4 separate regions of the Homo sapiens genome follow, and regions 1, 2 and 3 are each linked to region 4. Evidence: fine-mapped expression QTL. A gene starts in region 4. Each other region holds a variant in brackets. All regions are shown on one strand. Distances are between the middles of the regions. Region 1 has its middle 25 kb from the start of ZNF778. Region 2 overlaps ZNF778 (zinc finger protein 778). Region 3 overlaps ZNF778 (zinc finger protein 778). Region 4 holds the start of SLC22A31 (solute carrier family 22 member 31).

Region 1 (2,683 bases), 42 kb before region 4:
GGTCCTCAGTGAGAGATAGGTCCTCTCAATATTCAAGAGCCACCCTTCTACAGGGGACCCCTGGACTGCCCATCAGGGGGACAGGACAGAGGCACAATCCTGCCCGTCTCCCTGGATACCGCTCCCTGGCTGGCCACCACTTTCACTAACCCATGGAGCCAACCGTGCCCTGACAGCAAGAGGCCAATACTCACAGAACCACCACCGCTGCCCCTCTGTCAGCAGACAGCAGTTACAGAAGACTGACCTTTGTCCATTTCCCTCAAGAACTGGGGTCTTGGCCTCCTGCGGGGGGAAATGTTAGTGTGGGTAGCTAGGGGGTATGAGCAGGGCAGGAGAGGGCTCCCCACCACCACACACACACAACAGGTGTGCTGGCCACCATGAGGTGATGGTCAGGTAGTTGTTAACTGTCTCTAAAGTAATAATTGGTCACAGCCAGCGCCAGGGAAAGACAGCCTCCTAACAGATAGACAACAGCTGAAGCTGGTGATCAGCAGCTTCCCGTTAAGATCTCAGGAGCTGGGTGGGTGGGGAGAAGTAACACAAGACCCCGCATTATGTCACTGTATCAAACCCCAAGTCAGAAGGTCAAACCACACACTGGTCTTTCAAGGTGCCCTCCTAGCCTTCTTCCAGGCGTACTTTCCTTCCTCCTTTAAAGCTTTTTAATAAACTTCACTTCTGCTCTGAAGCGTGCCTCGGTCTCTCCCTCTGCCTTATGCCCCTCGGTTGAATTCTTTCTTCTAAGGAGGCAAGAACTGAGGTTGCTGCAGACCCGAACAGATTCATCACCAGTGACACTCCAGCATCCCCTTGTTCCCCGAGGCCCCCTGTCTGGAGCACCTTCCTTTCCACTGCTGCCTACAGGACTCCTCATCCCTCAACGCCCCAGGTCAACACTGTCTTCTCCTCCTGGAGCCTCCTTGCCACCTCGGCCAGAAGCCCTCCCTCCTGTTGACTATAGCACCTGCTCTCCCCTTCGAGACCCCGCCCCCTGGAAGGGCGTGGGTGTGGCTCAACACCTGCACAGGCCCAGCGCATGGTCAGGAAGGTCCTGGAGGGAGGGTGGAGGGGGCTGGAGGCACGAGGACCCTTTCTTTTGAGCAGGCAGGGTGGGGAGTGGGGGTTGCTGACCAGCCCAGAGCTGGGCTGGGGAGCCCGTTTCTCTCTGTGGTGGGAGCAGGCCTGGTGCCTCTGCTCTCCTGTCGACGGTGGGTGGCTGCGCAGGTGCAGGCAGCATCTGTGCCCTTGGCCCGCTTGGAACTTTTGTTAAAGATTAGACGTTTGAGGCCGGGCACAGCGGCTCACGCCTGTAATCCCAGCACTTTGGGAGGCC[A/G]AGGTGGGCAGATCACAAGGTCAGGAGATCGAGACCATCCTGGCTAACACGGTGAAACCCCGTCTCTTCTAAAAATACAAAAAAAATTAGCCGGGCGTGGTGGCGGGTGCCTGTAGTCCCAGCTACTCGGGAGGCTGAGGCAGGAGAATGGCGTGAACCCGGGAGGCAGAGCTTGCAGGGAGCCGAGATCGCGCCACTGCACTCCAGCCTGGGCGACAGAGCGAGACTCCGTCTCAAAAAAAAAAAAATTAGACGTTTGAATCTAATAATATAACTCTGAAAGTCAGACTCTCCCCATTCCCCAGGGTTTGCTGGGTTTTGGTTTTGTTGACTGTTGTGTTTTTTGTTGTTGTGGGCTGCCTCTGTGCTGATGCTCAGCCTGAGGTGTCAACTGAAGACATTCTCACGTCTTTCCTGATCATCTATCTATATTTATATATATAACATATATAAATATATAGTAAATATATATGTATATATACACACACACACATACGTGTGTGTGTGTGTATATATATATATATATATTTTTTTTTTTTTTTTTTTTGAGACAGAGTCTAGCTCTGTCACCCAGGCTGGAGTGCAGTGGGGCGATCTCAGCTCACTGCAAGCTCCGCCTCCCGGGTTCACGCCATTCTCCTGCCTCAGCCTCCAGAATACCTGGAAGCACAGGCGTGAGCCACCACATCCGGCTAATTTTTTAAACTTTTTTTCGTAGAGACACGGTCTCCCTGTTTCCCAGGCTGGTCTCAAACTCCTGGACTCTAGCGATCCCCCCAGCTTGAGCTCCCAAATTGCTGGGATTCCCGTCGTGAGCCACCATGTCCAGTCTAACTGTCTTTTAAAGAAGTTTAAAAATTACTCTCTAGCTGCGCAAGGTGGTTGGTGCCTGTAATCCCAGCAGTGTGGGAGGCTCTGGTGGGAGGACCACTCGAGCCCAGGAGGCTGAGGCTGCAGTGAGCCACGATAGCGGCACTGCACTGCAGCCTGGGCGACAGAGCGAGATCCTGACTCAAAAAAAAAAAAAAAAAGAAAAGAAAAGAAAAAGAAAAGAAAAAAGAAGAAAACACTTAAAGGATGACATCATTTTCGGGCGTTTCGTCCTTTGGGATTTGCCGTTTTCAGGATTTCACACCGTAGGGATGTTGATCTCTTGTGACTTCAACACTCCGGGTTCTGCTCTTCAAGACTCTGGCTGAGGTCTGTTTCAAACAGAGCCCAAACACGCAGATCTGTCGTCATCTAGGTCCCGTCTGCCCTGTGTGCCCTGTGAAATGGTGCCAAACATCCGCTAGCCACAGAAAAACCGACACCTGAGAGCTGTCGGTCCCCCAGCCCCGGCTG
Region 2 (2,683 bases), 27 kb before region 4:
CAACCAGAGCCTATGCTGCTCACAGAATCACATCTGGATCCTCAAGACTAACCAACCAGAGCCTACGCTGCTCACACAGAATCACATCTGCATCCTCAAGACTAACCAACCAGAGCCTACACTGCTCACAGAATCACATCTGGATCCTCAAGACTAACCAACCAGAGCCTACAGTGCTCACACAAGATCACATCTGGATCCTGAAGACTAACCAACCAGAGCTTACACTGCTCACAGAATCACATCTGGATCCTCAAGACTAACCAACCAGAGCCTACGCTGCTCAAAGAATCACATCTGGATCCTCAAGACTAACCAACCAGAGCCTACACTGCTCACACAGGATCACATCTGAGTCCTCAAGGCCTACTGTTAGCCAGGCTGCGACGTGGACACTGTAGCAACCAGACTGGAGGATTTCTACAGGGAACAGAGTCCTCACTCCAAGAATGATCAGTGCAGCATCATAAAGATTCAAAATACGTCTACAGAACCCCCAGAAAGACATGTCTCAAGTTAGCCCACAAGGTTTTAGAACACAGGGAAGCGACTGCTATCTTCCATACATTCACAACACTTCAAGTGTCAATCACCACGTTTACTAAAGGGTGAGGAAAGATGTAATGTAAAAAATGACTTCCCAACAATTCTCACCCTCCTAAGGTTTTTCTTCATTGTGAGATCACAAGGGATCATCAAAGTACTGAGCAGAACAGCAACAATGCTGCTGCATATCACACATCAATAGAGTTCTCTCTACTGGATACCATCCATATTCAGCAAGACCTTAGAGAACACTGAGGGCTTTCTCTGTGTCTGCTGCATAGGGCTCCAGGGTGAGTTCCTGCCTGCCGGGTTGTGATGAGATGCTGATTGCCTAGCCACATTCCTCAAGTCATGGACATCTGGAGAACGAGAGGTCTTTCATGTCTTCAACGTGAATGAGTGTAGCTGACAGCTTCCCCACATTCTTTACATTAGAAAGGTTTCTCATCAGTGTGAATTTGAGTGTGATGGTTAAGGCATGAGGAATTCTTAAAAGATTTTCCACAGTCCTTACATACAAAAACCTGCTCTTCAGTGTAAGTTTTTAAATGTTCTTTTAGTAGATAAAACCTATTGTATGCTTTCCCACATTCCTTACATTTATAGGGTTTCTGCCCAGTGTGAATTCTTCCATGTTTATGCAGGTGAGAGGAGGCACGGAAGGCTTTCCCACACTCGTTACATATGTAAGGTTTCTCTCCTGTGTGAGTCCTTCTGTGTTCGATAAGGTGTGAGGAGGAAGCAAAGGCTTTCCCACACTCCTTACATATGTAGGGTTTCTCACCGGTGTGGGTTCTTATGTGCAC[G/A]ATAAGGTGTGAGGATGTGGTGAAGGCCTTTCCGCATACTTTACATTCATAAGGTTTCTCTCCAGTGTGAGTTCGTATGTGCTCGGTTAGGCTCGAAGAAACAGTGAATGTTTTCCCACAGTCCTTACATTCATAAGGTTTTATTCCAGTGTGAATCTGAATGTGCTTATTCAGGCACGAGGAATTTCTGAAGGATTTCCTGCATACCGTACATATAAAGGGCTTCTCCTCTGTGTGAGTTTTCACATGCTCATTCAGTAGATAAACCCTATTGTAGGCTTTCCCACAGTCCTTACATTCATAGGGCTTCTCCCCGGTGTGTGTCCGCATGTGTTTAGTGAGGCCTGAGCGCCCTGTGAAGGCTTTGCCACACTGCTTACATTCGTAGGGTTTCTCTCCGGTATGGATTCTCGCGTGCTCAGTCAGGCTTGAAGAAACAGTGAAGGATTTCCCACAATCTTTACATTCATATGGTTTCTCTCCAGTGTGAGTCCTTACATGCTCAGTAAGGCCCGAGGATGTACAGAAGGCTTTCCCGCAGTCCTTACACGTGTATGGCTTCTCGCCCGTGTGTGTTCGTACGTGTCTAGTAAGGCCACAGCGCACAGTGAAGGCCTTCCCACAGTAGCTGCATGTATAGGGTTTTATTCCAGTGTGAATTCGAACATGATTATTAAGGCATGAGGAATTTCTAAAATATTTTCCGCAAACCACACATGCAAAGGGCTTCTCCCTCGTGTGAGTTTTTCCATGCTCATTCAGTAGATAAAACCCACCGCAGGCTTTCCCACAGTCCTTACATTCATAGGGCTTCTGTCCAGGGTCTGTTTGGACGTGTTTAGAAAGACCTGAGAGTCCAGTGAAGGCTTTTCCGCATTCTTTACATTCACAGGGTTTCTCTGCAGCATGAATTCTTACATGTTGAGTTAGGCTGGAAGAAACAGGGGAGGCTTTTCCACATTCTTCCAATTCACAGGGCTTTTCCCCAGGGTGGACTTGCACGCGACCAGTAAGGTAGGCAGTGTACCTAAAGGCCTTCCCACATTCCCTACATACGTGGGGATTCCTGACGGCATGCATTTCAACAGGTGTGGCGCAGCCCATGGAGTGAGTTAGAGCTTTCCCACACGGCTTCCATTTCCATGTTTCTTCTCCGTTGTGACTTCCCGCACGTGCCTGAAGGTATGACTGATTAAGGAACACTTCCCCACAGCTGCTGTAGTCAAGAGATCTGTCCCGAGTGCATGCTTGCTGGGAAACAACATTTGGAGTAGAGCTGAAGGCTTTTCCACACTGACCCAACACGGAAAACTGCTCTCCAATTTTGAACA
Region 3 (2,677 bases), 33 kb before region 4:
TTCTCTCACAGTGTTAGGACACCTGTTTCCCACTCGTTGTGTGAAAACGGAAGTCAGCATGAGGCCCCGATCTGGAGCCTAGTGGGTGCTGGTGCCAAGCTTCTGGGACCCTCCAGGCCTTCAGAATTGTGAACAAAATAAACCTCTTTTCTTCATTAAAAAAAAGAGGCCTTGCAAAAATTTTTATGTCCATAGTGGGAAAAATGACATTACACTCTACAGATACGGTCAACAAAAATCAACTCCAAATGGATTAAGCAACTTGGGATAAAACATAGAAACTGTGGAAGCCAAAATAGTACAGCATATTTAAGGCCTTAGGAGAAAAGAAATTTCTGATGAAGATAAAGGAAAGGTTGTATAAATTTGAGTATGCCAAAATTAAGAAATATTTTTCCTTTTTTTTTGAGACAGAGTCTCACTCTGTTGCCAGGCTGGAGTGCAGTGGCGCGATCTCGGTTCACTGCAATCTGTGCTTCCCATCTTCAAGCAATTCTCCTGCCTCAGCCTCCCAAGGAGCTGGGATTACAGGCGTGCACCACCACATCTAGCCAATTTTTCTATTTTTAGTAGAGATGGCGTTTCACCATGTTGGCCAGGATGGTCTTGATCTCCTGACCTTGTGATCCACCCACCTCGGCCTCCCAAAGTGTTGGGATTACAGGCCTGAGCCACCACACCTGGCACAATCTTTTTCCTTAAGGCATCATCACAAAAGTGGAAACAGGTGAAGTGGAAACCACTGCAATCTTCTAAGTCACAAGTGGTGACTCACCTCACAACAGCCTCACTATTTCTAAAAAAGAACAAAGATCAAACAAACCAGGAAAAAACAAGACCAGGTACTTCATCCAAAAAGGAAAATAGCCAGCGTAAGCAAAACCATGTTCATACTATCAGTAATGAAGAGAAGTGCAAACCAACACCCCAAGGAGATGCTGTTTCACAACCACTTTGGAAAAAACGTCACTCCCTAAGAAGGTTGAACGAGTAGAGAGAAAGAATAAAACTGCCCAGGAGTCAACATGGCAGTTCCTACAGATAGTTCAAGAATCCCTGGGCTGGGTAAGACCTTGTCACAGACATGTGCTTAGGTAGAGAGACTATGAGGAAAACCACACCACTGGTGGGGCCTAGACGCGGACTCGTCAAGGTGAGTGAGTGACACACACAGGTTCCTGACATGGAAAGTTTATCACTCACAGTGTCAAGAGAAGGCGGCACATCACTCCAGGCAGGGCCCAAGGGGAGCTGCAGAGCTGGGCAGGAGGCAGAAGTCAGAGCCAGGGGAGGCAGAGGCCACA[G/A]GGTTTTCACAGGAAAGGCAGGACAGGGCAGGATGAAGTCTGGGGCTGGCTAGTCTGCATACTTCCAGCAGGCCCAAGGGCATACAGCATGTCCTGCTGTCTAGTGCCTCATCCTGGGCTGACTTCAGGGAGGAGAAATACTGGCTTGGTGTGGTAGTTAGAAAAAGGAAGTGGCCGGAAATAAGTACTTGCAACAGTTGAGTTGCATACGCAGTGCGAGCTGAGTTGCATACGCAGTGCGAGTTGAGTTGCATACGCAGTGCGAGTTGAGTTGCATATGCAGTGCGAGTTGAGTTGCATACGCAGTGAGTTGAGTTGCATATGCAGTAAGTTGATTTGCATACGCAGTGCGAGTTGAATTGCATATGCAGAGCGAGCTGAGTTGCATACAGTGTGAGTTGAGTTGCATATGCAGTATGAGTTGAGTTGCGTTGCATATGCAGTGCGAGCTGAGTTGCATATGCAGTGAGTTGATTTGCATACGCAGTGCGAGTTGAGTTGCATACACAGAGCAAGCTGAGTTGCATACGCAGTGTGAGTTGAGTTGCACACGCAGTGCGAGTTGAGTTGCACACGCAGTGCGAGTTGAGTTGCATACGCAGTGCGAGTTGAGTTGCATACGCAGTGCGAGTTGAGTTGCATACGCAGTGCGAGTTGCATACGCAGTGCGAGCTGAGTTGCATACGCAGAGCGAGCTGAGTTGCATACGCAGAGCGAGCTGAGTTGCATACGCAGTGCGAGCTGAGTTGCATACGCAGAGCGAGCTGAGTTGCATACGCAGAGCGAGCTGAGTTGCATACGCAGAGCGAGCTGAGTTGCATACGCAGTGCGAGCTGAGTTGCATACGCAGTGCGAGCTGAGTTGCATACGCAGAGCGAGCTGAGTTGCATACGCAGAGCGAGCTGACTTGCATACGCAGTGCGAGCTGAGTTGCATACGCAGTGCGAGCTGAGTTGCATACGCAGAGCGAGCTGAGTTGCATACGCAGTGCGACTTGAGTTGCATACGCAGAGCGAGCTGGGTTGCATACGCAGAGCGAGCTCAGTTGCATACGCAGAGCGAGCTGAGTTGCATAGGCAGTGAGTGGATTCGCATACGCAGTGCGAGTTGAGTTGCATACGCAGTGCGAGTTGAGTTGCATACGCAGTGCGAGTTGATTTGCATACACGGTGTGAGTTGAGTTGCATATACGGTGTGAGTTGAGTTGCATATGCAGTGAGTTGATGTGCATATGCAGTGAGTTGATTTGTATATGCAGTGCATGTTTCCAGCAAGTTGTTTACCATCTTTAGGAATGATCTAGCCTGAGAGGGACGGTCTAGCCCCCACAGCAAGACCCCAGGATGAAAATGTACCCTAACAAAAAAAAAAAA
Region 4 (2,683 bases):
CCCGCGCGGACGCCCCCGGCCCCACGCGGGGACCACCCCGGGACGCCGGCCGGAGCCCGCGCGCCCCCGGGCAACCTGAGTGCACCTGCGCCGCGAGGGCACCTGAGCGCTCCCGGCCACGCCCCTGCCACGCCCCCGGCCCCCACGTGCCGCCCTCACGGGGCCCCGCCCCCTCGCGGTTCGGCCGCAAGCCCCGCCTCTCAACCTTCCCGCCCCTCAACCTCCCCGCCCTATGCCCCAGATCGGGCCCCGCCCCTTTACGCCTTAGGCCCCGCCCTCACACCGCCCGCCCCCACACCCCGCCTCCACTGGACTCAGGCTCCGCCCCTTAATGCCTCGCCCCAAAGCCCCGCCCCAGGAGCCCGCCCTGGTCCAGGCCCCGCCCCGTCCCGAGCGCAGCCTGCGACCGATGGAGCAGGAGGCGCGGGTGCTGAGAGCTGCGGGCGGCTTTGGCCGGGCCCGGCGCCTGCTGGCCTCCGCCTCGTGGGTACCCTGCATAGTGCTGGGGCTGGTGCTGAGCTCCGAGGAGCTGCTTACCGCGCAGCCCGCGCCCCACTGCCGACCGGACCCCACGCTGTTGCCCCCAGCGCTGCGCGCCCTGCGCGGACCCGCGCTGCTGGACGCCGCCATCCCGCGCCTGGGGCCCACGCGAGCCGCGAGCCCCTGCCTGCTCCTGCGCTACCCCGATCCCGCGCCCTGCACCCGCCCCGGGCCCGCGCCCCGCGCCCGCACGCAACGGCACCCGGCCCTGCACACGCGGCTGGCTCTACGCGCTGCCCGGCGCCGGCCTCCTGCAAAGCCCGGTCACCCAGGTGCGCCCCCGTCCCTGCTGCCCCGCAGCCCTCCCCGCCCCCAGCCCGCCGAGGCCCTGGGTGTCCTTTCTCCATCCTACCTGGCGCCTCTGACCCGGGCCCCCCGGCCGTCCTCCTGGGCTTCCTGCTCCGGGGCGGCCGCCGGCCCGACGGTGCCGCAGACGGGCGCGCACGGGCCGGACCCGCGGAGAGGGGCCGGGCGGGGGCTGAATCTGGGCCTGGGAGCTGCCAGGCGCGGGGCGGCCTGGGGCGCTGGAGGATTGGAGCCGAAGGCGCCGGTGGGGGAGCAGGGCCTGGAATTTGCTTCAGGACCACCAGCGTCTTCAGCAGACCGTGGCTTTGGGCTGGCTTTCCAAGGCAGAGTCTCTGCTTGGAGGGACTGACGTGGTCAGCACAGACTGGGGAAGGTGGGCTTCCCATCAGTGAGGTGCGCAGAGGCTGGGCTAGAGACTGCATTGCCTGAAGGGAAACCTTGACGATCTGCGTGAGAAGAGATGGGGAGGCGGGCGGCAGGGACCTCCAGGCCCCTTTCATGCCTTTCCGCGCTGGGGCTGAGACCTGCACACCCCTGAGGCAGCCTTTACCCCGAGGCCCCCATCCCCCATCCTGGGAGGACTGGCCCCAGTGTGGAAACTGGAACGGGGTTGCCACATCTTCACAAGGGCTGCCTGGGGCCCTGGAACCCGCCGGGCTTCTCTCTCCACCCTGCTCCCTCCCACCTCCCACCTGCCCTCCTCCTGTTTGGTGCCTGGATCCAGGAATGCCCCATCAGCTTTCCCAAAACGTCAGGTTTGAAAGTAAAATCTCGGGCATAGCACGGCCCCCAGCAGTAGATTAAGCTTGCCAAGAAGACCCAGGAACCGGAAGGGGTGGGGGGAGGCGCAGAGCTGAGGTCAAGGGTCAAGGGCCTCACCGGGAAATGCCGCTGAGCACAGCTCTCCAGCCGCTGCCCGAGTCCCTCTTGAAATGGGCAGGGCAGGGAGGGCGTGGGTACCAGCGCAGGTGCTGGGGTTCATTTCTTAGGCCTGTGTCATGGCTATGACCCTTGGCCGGCTGGGGTGGGGGCTGTGTCTATGACGCCACCAAGGCCCTGGGTGTCCCCGGGGTCCCTCGGAATAGGAGGTGGAAACGGGTCGGACAAGAGCTGGCCGTGGGGGAAGAGCAATGGTGTGCGGAGGTGGGGGAGGCCCTATCTAGGGACAAGCAGAAAACTTAGGGTGGGCAGATCCCCCCGACCCCTGTGCAGGGGCTGCCGGAGACCAGAGAGGCTGCTGTGTGACCTGGACCAAGCCCCTTGCCCTCTCATGCCTCAGTTTCCCCTTCTCTCCACGGAGGGATTGAGCAGGACATGGAGGGCCCCTTCCAGTAGCCATTCTGGGACTCCCTGCACCTGTCCCCAGGGGAGGGTCCTGAGCTGGCCTCCACGTGGCTGCTGTTCCCCATAGTGGAACCTTGTGTGTGGAGACGGCTGGAAGGTCCCGCTGGAGCAGGTGAGCCACCTCCTGGGCTGGCTGCTGGGCTGTGTCATCCTGGGAGCAGGCTGTGACCGGTGAGGCCCCTTCCCTTTTCCTGCTGCCCAGCAGCCCTCCCCTCCGCCCACTCTCAGGGTTCAGCTAGACCTGGTGCTGCCAGGATGAAGGTTGGACCCTGGGTTATCCTGACCCTGTCCAAGCATGTCCCCCGCTGCCCACCAGGTTTGGACGCCGGGCAGTTTTTGTGGCCTCCCTGGTGCTGACCACAGGCCTGGGGGCCAGTGAGGCCCTGGCTGCCAGCTTCCCTACCCTGCTGGTCCTGCGCCTACTCCACGGGGGCACATTGGCAGGGGCCCTCCTCGCCCTGTATCTGGCTCGTGAGTACCCTGGGGGCTGCTG

Evidence for each region.
Region 1: its variant is fine-mapped to the expression of SLC22A31 in whole blood (INTERVAL, PIP 0.99).
Region 2: its variant is fine-mapped to the expression of SLC22A31 in caudate (GTEx, PIP 0.96).
Region 3: its variant is fine-mapped to the expression of SLC22A31 in fibroblasts (GTEx, PIP above 0.99).

Annotation. Positions count from the first base shown.
Region 1 is chr16:89,241,389-89,244,071 of GRCh38, reverse strand. No RefSeq gene overlaps it. Among named protein-coding and RNA genes, the nearest start is that of ZNF778, 25 kb to the right of the region's middle. RefSeq lists an enhancer at 1,931-2,447. The variant A/G (reference allele first, on the strand shown) is at 1,340.
Region 2 is chr16:89,226,857-89,229,539 of GRCh38, reverse strand. It overlaps ZNF778 (zinc finger protein 778), which reads right to left. Exons shown (of 7, transcript NM_001201407.2): 7 at 1-2,683. The coding sequence ends at 978. Among named protein-coding and RNA genes, the nearest start is that of ZNF778, 10 kb to the right of the region's middle. The variant G/A (reference allele first, on the strand shown) is at 1,353.
Region 3 is chr16:89,232,645-89,235,321 of GRCh38, reverse strand. It overlaps ZNF778 (zinc finger protein 778), which reads right to left. Exons shown (of 7, transcript NM_001201407.2): 7 at 1-2,677. Among named protein-coding and RNA genes, the nearest start is that of ZNF778, 16 kb to the right of the region's middle. The variant G/A (reference allele first, on the strand shown) is at 1,305.
Region 4 is chr16:89,199,391-89,202,073 of GRCh38, reverse strand. It overlaps SLC22A31 (solute carrier family 22 member 31), which reads left to right and starts at 1,537. Exons shown (of 9, transcript NM_001384763.1): 1 at 1,537-1,596; 2 at 2,258-2,361; 3 at 2,507-2,661. The coding sequence starts at 1,573. RefSeq lists a silencer at 381-470 and enhancers at 763-1,385, 2,634-2,683.